Homo sapiens: one gene and its partner. The protein of the gene in region 1 interacts with the protein of each later gene in a biochemical or structural test. Each region holds a gene or a part of one and is shown in the gene's direction. Other genes may lie near its edges.

Region 1 (3,161 bases):
TGTTTAATCAAGAAGTAAGGGGAGCCTAAACCTGGGAGAGGAAAGGCAGGAACCCAAGGGTTCTCCAAAGAAACGCTACGTTACTGAGATAGATAGGTTGAGCAGCTGATGGCATAGGAGTATGGGTGAAGAAGGGCAGGAAGGTCAAATGTGATTTCTGATTTCTATCTAGGGTGTCTGGGAAAATAGTAATTTCAAAGAGATAGCAAGTCTTGGAGGATAAATTTGGATACAGGAAAGTGGTTTGATCTTAGACATGGTGAATTTGAAGAGTTGATAGCAGGACATCCACAGGCTGGCAGTACTCAAAATAGAGGTCAAGTCTAATGACTAAAGCAAGCAAAATCTTCTTGAAACAGAAAGATGATAAAGGAGATGAAGCAAGAAAGAATCTGGCAAATGCTGGCTAGGGTTGAGGAACTCTTATGACTAAATGTTTTTTTAAAAACAACTTGATGATGTGAGAAGTTTTACTGTTCTGAATTGAAAATGTTTTGAAAGTATACCAATTTGTACTTGAAGCAGAAGCTTATTACGCTATGGTTGGGACAAGGGAGCTGTTGTCAAACTGCAAGTCTCGGTACCACTTGCTAGTTACTTGAACTTTGGCATGTTACTTGAAATCTCAGAATGGGGTGCTCTAAAATAAGGATAATTTCAAGGTAAGCGACCTAACTTCATAGGGTTACTTTGAGATTAATCAAGAATTTATGTAAAGAGCAATTTGCATACTACATGGAACATAATAAGTGCTCAGTTAATTTTAACTGTTGTTCTTCCTACTTGGTAAATGCATTTTTCAAGTGATCTTTTAAAGTAAATGGTTACCAGATGACAAATTTAGATTGTAACAGCATAGTTTTATTTTAAGAAAAAATCGACTATTGTTTTTTACACCTTATGTAAACAAGTGAAATGTATCTGCTATAATTTTTCTTTTCAGATGTGTGTTAAAAGAGCTAGAAACATTGGGAAAGGACTTATATGGGGCAAAACTGATTGCACAAAAATGCCAAGTTCGAAATTGTCCTCATTTCAAGAATGCAGTGAGTGGATCAGAATGTCTGCTTTCCATGGTTGAAGAGGGAAATCCTCATCATTATTTTGTGGCAACACAGGTGATACTACTTTTAAAACCACAGGCAATTTTCACCATTTCTATTTATACTTCATATGGAGCTATTTATAATCAGAAAAAAGTTAGAATGATTAGACTTTTAAAAATACAGGCTTCTAAGTTAATTTGCAGTCAGTAAAAGCAATTGTCATTTGAGAATTTGAGGAAAACTTTAAGCATGTTGATATTCTTTTTAGTAGTGGAAGGTTGGGTTTTGTTTTTTTTAATGATTCCTTTGTTTTGCTTTTTTTGTTTGTTTCTTGAGACTTGAGGGTCTCACTATATTGCCTAGGCTGGTCTCGAACCCCTAGGCTAAAGTGATCCTTCCACCTCAGCTCCTGAGTACCTGGGATTACAGGTGTTTGCCATCATGCTGGACACTGGCAGAAGTTTCTTTTTTTAAAACAAGAAATTGTTGACATGAGATGTGATGATTTGTTGTAGGGTTCTTGAAGGGAAGATAAGTAGAGCAAAGTGCCTGTATTCTGTTAATTTTTTTCATGTTCCTGTATTTCATACTGTTTCTCAAAGTCATGGTTCATACTGCTTAAGACTGTACCAACAGTATGAAATATTTCAGGCTTTTGAAGAAAAATATTCCCATCTTCTTGAAGGCAGGAGAAGAGAGACTTTTGGGGGTGATATTAAGTTCACATACATACAGATTTGATTATCAGAATTATAAAATTACACAGAGGTAGAGCTGAATTTAGAATCTGAGTAGCTAATTACTACCCAGTTTCTTTTCCTTTAACCTCTTTAAGCATTCTTGACCCTTTCCAAAGAATATCTTAGAGTGGAAACAGGAGAAACCCACCTAACACATTTACCTTTGCATTAGTTTGTAATTTGTGGCTCTAGAGTATCGATAAATCCGGTTCACACAGCTGCTACTAACACTGTGCTCAGTTTTTATGTTTTTCTTCCTTTATCATGAAATATACCCCCATTACTCAAATGAATAAGTGAGGCTTACTCATTTGAAAAATAAAATCTGTGATCTCTTTTATTTTTAATACAGTTCTTGAAAACCTATTTAAGGTACCTTAATTGACATTTGAACTAAATAATTCTGTTTTCTTTTAAATAGGATCAGAATTTGTCTGTGAAAGTAAAAAAGAAGCCTGGAGTTCCTCTCATGTTTATTATTCAGAACACTATGGTTTTGGACAAACCTTCTCCCAAAACAATTGCCTTTGTAAAAGCAGTGGAGTCAGGTCAGCTTGTCTCAGTGCATGAGAAAGAAAGTATCAAACATCTCAAAGAGGAACAGGGTTTAGTGAAAAACACTGAACAGAGTAGAAGAAAAAAGCGCAAGAAAATAAGTGGTCCCAATCCTCTTAGTTGTTTGAAGAAAAAGAAAAAGGCACCGGACACACAATCATCTGCTTCTGAAAAGAAAAGAAAAAGAAAAAGAATTCGGAACAGATCTAACCCAAAAGTACTTTCTGAGAAGCAGAATGCAGAAGGAGAATGAATCCTTTGGATACTTTCAAGGACATTCAAATGTGAAAATGAATTTTTTACAACTAGAAGTATTTATAATAAAAGACCAAACTTATTTTTGTAAATGAACCCATATGCTTTAGCTAAAATTAATTATAAAATAAAAACAGTGACCAGTCTAGCCAGCATGGCAAAACCCCATCTCTACTAAAATACAAAAATTAGCTGGGCATGATGGTGCACAGTTGTAATTCCAGCTACTCAGGAGGCTGAGGCATGAGAATCGCTTGAACCTGGGAGGCAGAGATTGCAGTGAGCCCAGTTCGTGTCACTTCACTCCAGCCTGGGCAACAGAGTGAGAACATGTCTCAAAAAAAAAATAAAAACAGTGAATGGGTGTAGGTGTGATGGAATTCACTTTACTTACTAAATGGTTTCGGGAGGTTGTTTCTCCAGGTAAAATTGTCGCCTCTCTGGTCCCATTCCCACCTTCAAACATTATATGCAAACAGTTTTAAAAAATCTTACAGTTCTAAAAGGCTTGTGACAAAAAAAGAGGCAGTCCCTCTTTCACATTGACAGAAGAAACTTCCTCTTT
Region 2 (3,831 bases), on another chromosome or scaffold:
GCCTGTATACTCTAGCCTGGCTGACAGAACAAAACCCTATCTTGAAAAAAATATATATGTGGTGTAAGCCAAACCATATATATATATTTGGGATTACAAGCATGAGCTTGTAATTGGTTATATACACTCAGATGTCTGTGGTGTTGGCTATTGTTTCTGCTGTTAATCAACAGTCCTCTTCAATTAGGGCATGAACAAGATGAATTTTTTCCTTATAAATTGATGCGGGTGGTCTGCTGCTACAGACTTCCATCTTCAATATTATCTTGTTCCTTCTTAAAACAAGTTATCCATTTGTAAACAGGTGATTTCTTTGTCCCCATAAACTTTTCATAAAGCATCAGTGATTTCACTATTCTTCTACCGAAGCTTCACTGTAAATTTGGAGTTTGTTCTTGCTTCAGTTTTAAGCAGAATTCATGTTGCTGTTTTCAAACTGCTGTCTTATCCTTCTTAGTGTCTCAGACTAGATCTAGTTCACCCGTATTGTAACAAGTTGGTATGAGTTTATTTTGGTGCAAAAAATTTTGAAATTTTTGCATAGTTTCTTCATAATACGGATTTTCCATGAACTTTTTGAAGACCCCCTTATATATAGATCAGTGAAACAGAACAGCTAGTCCACAAACCCATGCATATATGGTCAATTAGTTCTCAACAGAGGTAATAAGGTAATTCAGCGGGGAAAAGAAAGTCTTTTCGACAAACGGACTGGATCCATGGGGAAAAAAGTGAACATCAAACCTAACTTTATATTGTAAGCAAAAATTAACTTCAAATGACTCAGACTGAAGTTTTAAAACTATAAAAGTTCCAGAAGAAAACAGGAAAAAAATCTTTGTGGCCTTGAGATATGTCAAGGTTCCTTAGCACAACAACAACAAAATTCTTTAAAAAGAAAAAATTGATATATTGGACTTATCGAAACTAAAAATTTTCATTCTTCAAAAGATAACATTAAGAAAATGAAAAGGCAAGCCACAGATGGGAAAATATTTGCAAAATGTATATCAAAGGACTTGTATCTACTCACTAAAGAAGATAATACACATGGTGATAAGCACATAAAAGATACTCAACATCAGTAGCCATCAGGCAAATTAAAACCACAATACAGTACTACTACATACCCATTAGAATGGCTAAAAATAAAAAAGAGTGACCATACCAAGTATGGGCAAGGATGTACAGAAACAAGCTCTCACAGTGTTGATGGTAAAATGGTACAACCACTTTGGAAAATAGTTTGGGACTTTTTTTTTAAGTTAAACATATATTTACCATATTACCCAGCTATTCCACTTGGAATATTTACCTAAGAGACAGGAAAATATACATCTTCAGGAAGACTTGTACACAAATTTTCATAGCAACATTGCTTATAGCCAAAAGCTGGAAATGACCCAAATGTCCCTCATCAGGTGAATGATGAACTGTACATCCATTACAATGGAATACTACCTAGTAATAAAACGGTAAGTTGTTGATACATGGTGCAACATAGGTGAATTTCAAAACAACTATCTTGAGTGAAAGAAGCCAGACAAAAATTAGTACATATGACATGATTCCGTTTATATAAAATTCCAGAAAAGGCAAACTAGTCTATAGTGGCAGAAATTAGATTGGTGGTTGCCTATGCATGGAGTGATGGATTATAAGGTGTCATGAGGAAATCTGGAGAAGTGATAGAAATAACCTTGAATGTGGTGATAGTTTTTTGGGTGTGTAGATATGTCAAAACTCAGCAAATTAGATACTTTAAATATATGCAGATTATTGTATATATTTATGCCTCAGTGAAGTTGAAAAAATTAAGAAATTAGAACTAGTCTTTGCTAGTTTTAGAACTAATTTAGAAATTAGAACTAGTCTTTGCTTTGTAGAACTAGTCTTTGCTTGTTAAACTTAAAATGTTTTTAGGTTAGGCCAGGCGCGGTGGCTCACACCTGTAATCCCAAAACTTTGGGAGGCTGAGGCGGGCGGATCACGAGGTCAGGAGTTTGAGACCAGCCTGGCCAACGTGGTGAAACCCCGTCTCTACTAAAAATACAAAAATTAGCTGGACATGGTGGCATGCCTCTGTAGTCCCAGCTACTCGGGAGGCTGATAATCACCTGGGAGACAGAGGTTGCAGTGAGCCAAGATCATGCCACTGCACTCCAGCCTGGGTGACAGAGCAAGACTCCATCTCAAAAAAAAAAAAAAATTTAGGTTAGTCTTACATATTTATTCTCCCATACAAACTGTTAAGTCAGCTGATCTAGTCACCAAAACAATTCTGCCATTACTTTTAATTGGCTAGTGTTCTTCATAGATTGAGGGAGAAAGGCTATCTTTATAATACTGAGTAGTTCAAAGTATTGTGTTATGTTCATTGCTATTTATTTATTTAGAGACAGAGTCTTGCTCTGTTGCCGAGGCTGGAGTGCAGTGGCACAATCTTGGCTCACTGCAACCCCCACCTCCTGGCTTCAGGTGATTCTCCTGCCTCAGCCTCCTGAGTAACTAGGATTACAGGCACCTGCCATCATGCCTGGCTAATTTGTGTATTTTTGTAGGGACAGGGTTTCATCATGTTGTCCAGGCTGGTCTTAAACTCCTGACCTCAGGTGATCCACCCACCTTGGCCTCCCAAAGTGCTGGGATTACAGGCATGAGCCACCGCACCTGGCCGTTCATTGCTATTTTAAGTGAGATCTTTCATTATATTTATTTTTTAGTTGTTGGTTGTTTACATATAGAGAACGTGGCTGCCTTATTGAAATTTCTCATTTGGCTGGGCACGGTGGCTCACGCCTGTAATCCCAGCACTGTGAGAGGCCGAGGCGGGCGGATCACTTGAGGTCAGGTGTTTGAGACCAGCCTGGCCAAGATGGTGAAACCTCGTCTCTACTAAAAATACAAAACAAAATTAGCCGGGCATGGTGGCGGATTCCTGTAATCCCAGCTACTTGGGAGGCTGAGGCAGAGAATTTCTTGAACCAGGGAGGCAGCAGTTGCAGTGAGCCGAGATCGCACCACTGCACTTCAGCCTGGGCGACAGAGCAAGACTCTGTCTCAAACAAAAAAAAAAAAAAAAAAAGGAAAGAAATTTATCATTGTTTAAGTTGCTTTTCAATTAATCCCCTGTTGTTTTCAAGTATACTAAGTACACTGCTGAAACAGCCAACAAAGGGAAGATAGTAAGCTTCAGAACTCTGATCATACCAACACAGAACTTGCCTTTTCATTTCCATTTTTATACATCCTATTACTTTCTCTTATCTAGTTGGATCAGCTGTACTTTTTCCTTTTTTAGTGTGAAGGTATGGCTTTCTTGCTACACATACATCCAAGATTAAAACCTTTTTTCTTTTTTTTTTTTTTTGAGACAAGGTTTTTCTCTGTTACCCAGGCTGGAATGCAGTGGCATGATCACAGCTGTCTGCAGCCTCAACCTCCCAGGCTCAAATGATCCTCCCCACTCAGCCTCCTAAGTAGCTGGGACTACAGGCTTGCACCACCACCCACCCTTGACTAATTTTTAATTTTTTTTTGAAGAGACGGGTCCTCACTATGTTGCCTAGACTGTTAAAATCTTTTACTTTTTAAAAATATATTTTAGAAATTGCTTCCCAAGAAGAAGGTGCTACTATACAGTGGATGTCATCTGTAGAAGCAAAGATTGAAGACAAAAAAGTTCAGAGAGAAAGTAAACTAACTTCCGGAAAGTTGGAGAATCTCAGAAAAGAAAAGGTTAGAAAAATATTTTGGGGCCAAAAGTATATATATTTTCTGACCTAGTGACTTATTCGCTGGATTTGGGTTATTCTGTTGTTAATGTGAATA

What was found.
Region 2: the proteins of UTP23 (region 1) and DDX52 form a complex in vitro, tested with the Homo sapiens proteins (one study listed by BioGRID).

What each region holds. Positions count from the first base shown.
Region 1 is NC_000008.11:116,769,249-116,772,409, forward strand, and holds part of UTP23 (rRNA-processing protein UTP23 homolog), read left to right. Parts: intron 1-943; coding exon 944-1,118; intron 1,119-2,207; coding exon 2,208-2,594; 3' UTR 2,595-3,161. UniProt on the Homo sapiens protein: Involved in rRNA-processing and ribosome biogenesis.
Region 2 is NC_000017.11:37,633,195-37,637,025, reverse strand, and holds part of DDX52 (probable ATP-dependent RNA helicase DDX52), read left to right. Parts: intron 1-3,607; coding exon 3,608-3,738; intron 3,739-3,831.